Homo sapiens: one gene and its partner. The protein of the gene in region 1 purifies or fractionates together with the protein of each later gene. This does not show direct contact. Each region holds a gene or a part of one and is shown in the gene's direction. Other genes may lie near its edges.

The links.
Region 2: the proteins of ZDHHC23 (region 1) and RRAS2 purify together in Homo sapiens (affinity purification with mass spectrometry; one large-scale study listed by BioGRID and IntAct). This does not show direct contact.

The regions. Positions count from the first base shown.
Region 1 is NC_000003.12:113,954,505-113,959,721, forward strand, and holds part of ZDHHC23 (palmitoyltransferase ZDHHC23), read left to right. Parts: intron 1-1,834; coding exon 1,835-2,002; intron 2,003-3,858; coding exon 3,859-4,126; 3' UTR 4,127-5,016; coding exon of another isoform or gene 5,017-5,039; 3' UTR 5,040-5,217. UniProt on the Homo sapiens protein: Palmitoyltransferase that could catalyze the addition of palmitate onto various protein substrates and be involved in a variety of cellular processes.
Region 2 is NC_000011.10:14,295,464-14,300,680, reverse strand, and holds part of RRAS2 (ras-related protein R-Ras2), read left to right. Parts: intron 1-4,607; exon of another isoform or gene 4,608-4,626; intron 4,627-4,825; coding exon 4,826-4,913; intron 4,914-5,217. UniProt on the Homo sapiens protein: GTP-binding protein with GTPase activity, involved in the regulation of MAPK signaling pathway and thereby controlling multiple cellular processes. Regulates craniofacial development.

The DNA.
Region 1 (5,217 bases):
CCTTCCCAGCTTTACACCTTGTAGATATTTGTGGGTTGTTGTGATGTTCCCACTTAGTCATCAGTTTTTCGAGTTTCACAAATTTAGTTCCTTCAGTCATTTCCTGAAGGAGAATAACAGAAAACTTGTGGGGTTTTTTTTTTCTCAATTTTCTTTTGAATGACTCCTCATTTATCTTTTCCTTTCTAATAGAGAAATATCTACAGTTGAATGATTTTTTAAAAAAAGAATTGATCAGAAACAGTATAAGCATATTTCCCTGTGCTATTCCTTTTTAAACATAAAGCTCAAGAAAGTGTACCCCTATTTTTAGGTGACTCTTTTGTCCCCTTGCCATACATACTTAATCGTTTTTGATGCTACCGATGATTTCCACTTAACATTATTGAATCGAGGTCCCACCAGATAAACTCTCTATTTGATTATTTGCAGAGAAATGGGCTTTTGTACCTGCCAGTTGGCCAGTAACAAACGAAGGTACATAAGGCTCCGTAAAATATGAAGTGCAATGTTTAAAGATAATGTTGCAGCTTCACTAAATACATCTAAACTAAAGGGACTATAATTAATTCAGATATGAATGCTGTAAGTAGCATGTTTGCAGTTTATTGCTCTTCAGGCAGTCGTGATCAATGAATTAATGCTTTTCGTGTCTAGGATTCTGGTCCTGTAGCGTACCTCCTCCTCAGAAGGGGATGCAGGAGAGGGTGAGGGTGCAGAAAAGGCTGAGAGGCATTGGCGTGGGCCTCAAGTGCATGGCTCAAGTGCAGGGCAGCTCTTTTCTGGGTCCTTGTCTTTAGAAGTAAACAGGTGTTTTCATTTTTAGATGTTCTACTTCTGTGTCTTCACTTATTCGTGTGTGTGTGTGTGTGTGTGTGTGTGTGTGTGCGTGTGTGTTCCATTTACAAATGCTGGTTTGCAGAAGGCTCACCTAACAGCAGATATGTGCCCACTGGAGCATCCTGGCATGCAGTGGGTAGAAGGCACTCCCTCTACATTCTGCCCCACAAATGGCCATGACACAGAACTGTTTTTACCTGCCAAAGAGCCTGCATGTTATCAAGTTGTTCTTCCCCCTACGCTATGTTTCTAACCTCTTTGGATCTTTATATTACTCTTCATATATTTAACATGAATTTTCCCATACTATGTAATACTTCTGATTTAGCATTTTTAAGTTTTCATAATTCTATTTATCTCCCTTTCCTTAACATGGTGAGGACAATGTTAGATCTCCATAGCTGGGTAATATTGATATTTAGGAAGATTTGTTAGCCAGGTTCTGCTTTTTATACTTAGTCTTGTCCTTAAACTGACGATATGATTCCACTTTGCGAAGAGTAGAGAATATAAGACTGCATTCCTCAGGGTGCAAGTTTTTAATTCCCTAAAATTGAAAAATAAGAGAACTTCTTAATAACTGGAATTTACATTTTCCCTATTTAAAACCTTGTCTTGGCTGGGCGCAGTGGCTCATGCCTGTAATCCCAACACTTTGGGAGGCTGAGGTGGGTGGATCATGAGGTCAGGAGTTCAAGACCAGCCTGGCCAACATGGTGAAACCCCATCTCTACTCAAAATACACAAATTAGCTGGGCATGGTGGCATGTGCCTGTAATCCCAGCTACTTGAGAGGCTGAGGCAGGAGAATTGCTTAACCGGGACCCGGGAGGCAGAGGTTGCAGTGAGCCAAGATCGCGCCATTGCACTTTAGCCTGAACTACAGAGCAAGACTCCGTCTCAAAAAAAATAAAGCTTTCATGTTTATTATGTAAGTTATATCAAGAACTCTTAAAAATGTGTTTGCTTTTTTATTTCTCTATGCTGTTTTGAGGATAAATAGCTGCGTTGGAGAATCAAATCATCAAGCATTTATACTTGCCCTTTTGATCTTCTTGCTCACCTCGGTGTATGGGATCACACTGACCTTGGACACCATTTGTAGAGACAGAAGTGTCTTCACAGCTCTTTTCTATTGTCCTGGAGTTTATGCAAATTACAGGTGAGCAGTGGGTACCACAGTATGGAGGCCCCCTGGGAAGTAATGGGTGTTGCCATTGACAGGGACTATTACTACTTGGTTAGGAGTTCTCAATCAAAACATAGGCCAGGCTATGGAAATGCTGGGTATCCCTGGAATTGCCAGCAAAATTGTGCATTGGTGATGTGTGTTTTTCAAGGGTGCTGTTAAAAGGATTGTTGACCTTTAAAAAGTGAAGAACTAGTTCTCTACAAACAGGACCAGGCCTAATCAGGGACTTCCAGAGTCAAATGACCACTCATAGGCTCAAAAGTCGCAACAGTGAAACAGAAACAATAAACAAAAACTAGCAGCCCCAGGGCACATATGTGCCTATTTTGTCATAACGATCAGAAACCTTCTCACTTTACTGCTGCTTTCTGATGTTTTTTAGTCCAATCTTAATTTACTGCTTCCGACCCTTTTGAGATGTGCTCGACATCTCTATAACCTTGCTTTTCTTTCTAACCTCTCTTGGTTTTTCCTGTTCTACTTTCTTTCTTTTTTTAATCACCACTGATGATTACTGTGATATGTAGGTCAAAATTTCCTTAGGCCCCTTTATAGATTGTGAAGATTTCCAGGCCATGGCAAAATTTGGGATTCTTCCGCTTCGGCCTCAGCGCCCCCTCCCTGAATGCTGGGGCCCCCCTCTGCCCATGCTCTTTATTCCCTTCCCTTCATCATCCTCTCTGACATAAGTGCTCTGGGGTATCTGTGGTTTGGCCCTTTTCTTTATTCTCACTCTTCATTTTCAGAACAATCCTTGCTTTCTTTACAAAGTATCCCTTTGTGGCATTTGTTTTTATTAGCCTGTGGACAGATCTCCCCATTGTCATCCTAGAACCAGACACCTGTGGGCATTATTAGAATAGATTGGTCTTCCTCAGATTAAGTTTCCTTCCTCACTGTGTGGAGAGTATCTCCAGCATGTGAATGAAATTCTCTGCTAACGCTGCAGGTGAGGCCCGTCCTGAAGCACAGCATGTCTGTGCACTCTCGGTGCGGAGGCGAGGGAACCGAGGAATACAGTCCTGCCATTGCTTCTCACCCTGCTCTGTGCAGGCGATTCACAGCACCTCATCTTTTTGGTTAGGTCCTTGGATTTAATAGTCTTTGAGGTCCCTTCAGCTTTTACAAATGAAGATTCTGAATGAACTTATTTCTAACTAACTCTTAATTTGCGAATGTTGGAAAATCATCAAATGGCAGAGGCTAACTGGCAGCCTGTCTCATTAGTGAGCCTGAGAGGAGCTTCCCTACCTTGTGTGATTGTGTTGGGCTTTAGGAGGGTGAATTTGGAATGTCTCGGTGTTCCTACATCCAGGTAAGCACAGGGCTGCTGGGGTTGGGAGTCGTCCATCGTCTTTTCATTCCTCAGCATTGGACTGGAAAGAATGGAGATTAGTAACTTTAGCACTGTTCCTCGGCATCCACCTGCAGCTTCCTAGAAGACATTTATAGCAGTCCCTTGGTGCCTTTGTTTTCTCATGAGTTAGATGTAATTTACGAATTACTTGTTTATTTAACAAACAGGTGTTGAACGCTGTTATGTCAGGCAGCGTGCTGGGTGTGTGGAGGGTACAAAATGCAAAAAACAGTCCCTGCTATTCTAGTGTAATATACTAGAAAATAGGCACCAGTAATTATAGAATAAACACACACATTCTCCTACTTAAGCAGGTTATTGGCATTCTGAGTATCTTCCAGTTCGGAGGGTTGGGGAAGATGCCAAAGTCTTTAGTAATAAGTAAAAAAATGTGTAAAACGTGAGAATGATGACAGTTTTCTGAATTTGACAAAAACGGCAGCCCTGACAGCCTTTTTCCCTCTCCTAGCTCGGCTCTGTCCTTCACCTGCGTGTGGTACTCTGTGATCATCACAGCAGGCATGGCCTACATCTTCCTGATCCAGCTGATCAACATCAGCTACAATGTGACTGAGCGGGAAGTCCAGCAGGCCCTCCGACAGAAGACTGGGCGCCGGCTCCTCTGCGGGCTCATCGTGGACACAGGCCAGTACAATAGGGGCTTCCTGCGGAACTGGCACCAGTTCTCCACCCTGGGCACACGTGCATTCCACCACCCTGCCGAGGACATTGTCTGAAGTGCCTTCTATGTGGCTCTCTGAGGGATGATGGCTCCTCCTTCCGTCTCCCTTCCATTTTACACTTCAGTGTCCATTTCTATCCCCAGTTTCTTAAAGGCATTATAGGGCCATGCTCAGGTTTAGAGACTGGAGTGGGAAGAAGTTAATTTTTCTGACGCCACAACTTAAGAGACTTTTATACTGAGGCAGTAAAAGTAGAGCCATTCCTTTCCAGTCACCTTTTTAATTGACTCAGTTGCCTGAACTTGAGAAGGATGTGGATTGCTAATGCACAAATTGATAGAAGCAATTCCCATCCATTAGTATGGAGGAAAGAGTGTTGGATTAGGATAGTTTCTAGTCCCTCTTTCGATTCTTAATAGCCATGTGACCCCTAGCTGAGTCACTTTCCCAAGTCTCAGGGTCATCTGCAAAGTGGGGTACTGATGCCTGCCCTGGCTACCTCACAGAGCCGTCATGAGGGTCACGTGAGGGAAGATGGATGTGGAAAGCACTAAAAAACAACTCAAGAGCCATGGAAATACAAAGTATTAGGAAAATATTATGATGGAAGAAAAACGTTTATAGTCTAGAATATTGAAGCCAATATTATTAGGGTAATCAGTTTTCAGCATATACCTTGTTGTACAGTTATGAGAATTTCTCCTTCTTATTAGACATGAACTACTCAAACAGAGAAGATGACCAGATGGATTGATGCTAAGTTGTCTCATCTTGAAAAGACAGTTGACAACAGTTATAAAGATAATTATTGCTAGTGTAATGTAGTGTGGCCATGAGTTTAGGTGATGAGTTCTTCTATTTATATTTTATAAATTCTGCTTGGGTTTCTTATAAATAACTCCAACAGGCATTCATGTGTTTTTCCTCTTCCCATGTTTCACCAGGTAAGGTGCTAGCACACTTGTGACTGTGGCTGGAAGAGGAGAACAGACACTCCTGTGGGGATGCTTTACTCTCTTTTCTGGTAGGAAGGCTGAGTAACATCACGGGCTCGATTATTTTCTTCATGTATTTCAAATGCTGTCAGTTATAGCACTAAATTGTGAAAATCAGCCTTCTGGCATTCACATTATTCTGGTATGAAC
Region 2 (5,217 bases), on another chromosome or scaffold:
AAGCAGGATTATCCTGCTTATCCCAGCATAATATTATACTTTGGCATTATTAGGGGCTTCTGACAAACTTACCCAGATCAATTTTTTTTGAGGCGGGGGTGGAAACAGGGTCTTGCTTTGTTGCTCAGGCTGGAGTGCAGTGGTGCCATCATGGCTCACTGCAACCTCATCTTTCTGGGCTCAAGCAATCCCCTGACCTCAGTCTCCTGCCTCAGCCTCCTGAGTAGCTGGGACTATAGGCGCGTGCCACCATGCCTGGCTAATTTATTTTTTGTAGAGATGGGGGTTGCCCAGGCTTGCCAGACCCGATTTTATCTCTGTCTGAATGTGATAGCTTCCCTAATCCTAAATGTTTCTCCACATCTCCTGACAATGTTAAAGAAACTGAAGTTCATTTGCCCATCCATACTACCGGGAAGGCATGCTGCCCTTTGAATGGGAGGGTATTCCTTGTCTTTTGACTAGGATTCTTCTGCACACATCCTTTCATGTCTATCAGGAAACATGTGCTCTCTCCATCCTCCACCCTTCCTTTCCCCTCAGTGTACTCTTTTGAGCCCTTGGGTCCACCCTTCTTCCCTATCCTTGCCTGAACCTTTACTGTCTAGCTCAGTGCAATACTGTGCTTGCTTTTTTTTCCTCTTTTTTTCTCTTTCTGCTACAGAACATCCTTTCTGGGCTGTGGTTGGTAACTTTTTATAATTTCAGGAGAGAGACTGTTTTCTTTTCTGGCAAATTGCTGAGGCTGTGTTGATAAGTGAACGCATACATAGTTCTGTACATAACTGTAGTATTAACTGTCTAACTTCTCTTGCCTTCTGAACAAGCATGGTATTGGCACTTCATGCTGTTTGTTTTTTGGCTTGGGTATAGACTTAAAATGCCCCAATCCTTCTCTTGCCCCCAGTAATACCTCAACTACTGGTGGTTGTATAAAAGGCACTGGACTCTGAAGATAGAGACCTTGTCTTTATGGAGTATCTTTATGGAGTACTTAGTAGGTGCTTCATACATGATCACTGAACAAATGAGTGAGTGAAATCAAGAGAGCAAGGACAATTGGCTGAAGGGTTTCAAGTAGTGGGAATGAGGCTTTGCATGGTGAACAACACAGATCAAACTGGATGGCTTTGCATACTACATAAAACCTGGAGGGCTTTGCATAGCATGTAAAGAAACTATGGAATCCTGTAAGCAGCAGGGAGCCATTTAATTTATATGTTCTCTAGAGGTATAATTCATATATGTACAAAAAAGTGTACAGATCTTAAGTGTACAGCCTGATGGGTTTTTACTTATGTAAATTAACTGTGTAGTTGCTGCTCAGATCCAGAGACTATTTCCAGAACCCCAGCTTTTGTCTTGATTCACAACGTTTGGATACCAAATCCCAGAGGTCGTGTGGTTGGTCTGAAGTGTAACTAGGACTGGAATTATTACAGCTACTCCTGAGCTTAGCAAATCTTTATACTTGAGTAAAAAACACTAATTCAGACCATTTAACTGCATGACAAAAACAATAGTTATTATTATGGTTGACATTTATTAATCAGCATGCCTTGGCACTTCATATGCATTATTTCATTTTACCTGCTTCACAGGATTTTGTTCCTGTCTCTGTTTTACAGATGCTGAAGATTAGACATGTAAAGTGATTTGCCTTAGGTCCCACAGCTAGGGAATAGCAGAGTTAGAATTAAACCCACGACACTTCATCACGGGGACTGATTACTTATTGGTGATCTGTTGCCTCAAATATCTGGTACCCAAGTTTAACAAAAATGTTGCCTTTTTGGTGAGAGGTGATGCCTGTATTTGTTACCTGCACACAGTGAATGCTCTTAGGGATATTCTGACCTATGGATTCTTAGAATTTTGAGAGGGAAAGAGGTTTTTGATTCTATGATAGGCAGTTCCCAGAGTGATGTTTCGTTGGAGGAGGATTGTTTCAATGTGGATGGCTCTTTACAATTTACGTGTAGCCAGTAGATGATGGTCTCTGTAGACAAAGTATGAAGATAGGACACAGCAAAGATTGGGTGTGAACCTAAATATCCAAAAATCCCAACAATGAATTTGTCTTAAAAATTAATATGAGTGGAAATAAATGCATGTAGCAGTATGGCAAAATTCTTGTAATACTAAGATTGTGTTTCAAGAGTTAAGACATCCAAAGAAATGTCCATAGCGAGTAGAGGTAAAACAGTTTATTATACTGGACTTCAAAGTTGCAACAATCTTTTATATAACAATCAAACCAACAATCTTTTGTGCATGTTAATATCTTAATCTCACAACGCCAAGAACTGTCACATTTAAAGAATTCTAGCTATTGTGCATGGCTTGGCATTTGTAAAAAATGTATTTAACATTTGTTTATTATATTTTAGGCCAAATCAGTAGGGACAGTGTAGCACTTTTAGGCATCAGCTGGGAGTAGTCAGTGAAATTCAGGTTTTACAAGATATAAAAGCATGGCATATGGGGAAACATGTTTCAAGAAATGAATCTTAAAAAGTACAGCGCATGCTTTATCCAATTTGCTTGTGAAAGACTGCTGATTCCTGTTGTTTAAAATAGTGGGTGTAGAGAATATTGTTGCCAGTAAAATTTATTTACTTTTTGAAGTGGCATGGGTGCCAAAAAGTAAGTTCATGATTGTTTTGATACCTGCTTTTTTTTTTTTTTAAGGCTAGTTAAGTGAATTGATACCTGTTTATTTTTAAATGGTGATGGAGTGGTGGAGGAGATGGCTTCCTACTAAAAGTTACTGCTGTTGGTGAACATTTCTTTTACAGACTTTGTTCAATACATCATGCATTGAAGTGAAACATCAAAAAACAAATAGGATTATAGATATGGAATTCTGTGATTAAAGTTAAACATTTTAATTTTAATTTAAAAAAAATTTTTTTAAGAGACAGGGTGTTATTCTGTCTTCCAGGCTGGAGCGCAGTGTGGCATGATCATACCTCACTGTAACCTCGAACTCCTGGGCTCAAGCAGTTCTTCTGTCTCAGCCTCCGGAGTAACTAGGACTACAGGTGTACACCACCACATCTGGCTAAGTCTTAAATTTTTCGTGGAGATGCGGTCTCACCTTGTTGCCCAGGCTAGTCTGGAACTCCTGGGCTCAAGTAATTTTCACAAAGTGTTAGGATTACAGGCATGAGCCACCATGCCTGGCTTTAAAGTTATTCTTAAGACTTAAATAAAATGTGGAAAGTGTCCTTCAAAAAAAATATGTAAAGTCATGGTATCAGGCAGATTAATATATCTCCTCCCAAAACCAGGGGATTCTTTTCTGTCCTCTTCAAGAGTGCTTGTTTCTGAGTAGCTCTCTGGTGTTTGCATAGGTCGCCACGAATGTTGGGTCCCAAGAGCCAGGAACCCTTGCCTGAAGAAGGCTAAATACTCTTGATGCTGGTTCCTAGCATTAAGCTGTCTCCTTCCAAATCATTCCTTCAGATTTTGTAATGAGCCAGTGGGAAAATGGGCTTTGAGGAAGTCAGTCCAAAGTAGATCAAAGGAGATACTCAGAACAAATGGAGGATGATGTTGGTGTCCTGGTTAGTGCCCTTCTGTAAGAAGAGGGAAATGCACTCTCTCAGATTATTGTTGTTATCTTTTTTAAACCTTTTTCTTTTTTGGAGACAGGGTCTCATCCTGTCACCAAGGCTAGAGTGCAGAGTGGTATGATCATGGCTCACTGCAGCCTTGACCTTCTGGGCTCAGGTGATCCTTTCACCTCAGCCTCCTGAGTAGCTGATTTTTTAAAACCCTTTTAAATAAAACTGAAATGTAGGCTGAGATTCTTCCCTTCTTACTTGGATACTTTAACTGTCCCCCCCCTTTTTTTTATGGTAATGACTTCGGTAGTTGGGAGGGTTTGATCAGAGAAGAGAGGAATAGAATTTAAGATAAAAAAACAACAAAAGATGTCAGTGAAAGAGTAAGTTTGAGGTTCCTACTAATGAAAAAATTTCAAAATGATATTTTCTTGTAGTACATAAGGCAGTTGAAAGGGGAATAAGACAAAGTGTGAGAAAAGAAAGGTATAAGATGAAATGTTCCAGGCCTCTTTGTGTTGTCTCCATTTTTTCCAGATACTTGACTTCTTAGGACTGATGATTATAATCAGGTTGCTAATTCAAATAGGTCTGAATTATAACTTACTGTGTTTTCTAATTTTTCTAGAGTTTGAGATCTAGATTCTTAACCTTAAATAATTATGAAAAAAGTTGTAGATCTTTTACAGTCTTGCATATTTCAGATATGAAAATTTAGAGATACCTAGTACCTTTTCTTCACGTGAAGGTGCTCATAAGAACATTTGGTGGGGAATTGTCATAGAGGGTAAACCCTAGTACAGTGAAAATGTTTTGATTAGTTCTGGATAAGTGGAATTTGTTAAGCAAAGTTACATTGGTACATTGGTAGGCAGGTAATCATAAATTTTATTTTATTTTTTATTCTATTTATTTTATTTATTTTTATTTTTGAGACAGGGTCTTGTCCTGTCTCCCAGGCTGGAGTACAGTGGCACAATCATGGTTCATTGCAGCCCCAACCACCTGGGCTCAAGTGATCCTCCCACATCAGCCTCCCAAGTAACAGAGACCACAGGTACACACCACGTCGGCTAATTTTTTAATTTTTTAATTTTTTTTTAAGAGATAAGAGTCTTGCTGTGTTGCCCAGGCTGGTCTCAAACTCCTGGCCTCAAGTGATCCTTCTCCCTCGGCCTCCCAGAGCATAGGATTACAGGTGTGAGCTACCATGCCTGGCCATGAATTTTAAAATAAAGTTTTTTCTTTTCTTGCAGTCCTATTTTGTAACGGATTATGATCCAACCATTGAAGATTCTTACACAAAGCAGTGTGTGATAGATGACAGAGCAGCCCGGCTAGATAGTAAGTAAACTTCCTTTGTTTGATAATTTGCATATCATATTTTTTAAAAAAGTAAGCGCTGATGTTTTGCTATGTTAAATAATATATTTGAAATATTAGATGATCTGGAATATTAGCCCATGTCATTTATAAGTTTTGATTGAAGAGTCTGCATAATGGGTAATTTAAATATTCCTCAATAAATGAAAAGTAAAACGATATTTGTATTGATCTTGTTCTAGTGAAACTGGTCTCATTGCAGTTTGTTGAAGTTGATTTTATTGGGACAACTGGAAAAAACCTGTCAGGTCTCAACTCTTCCTAC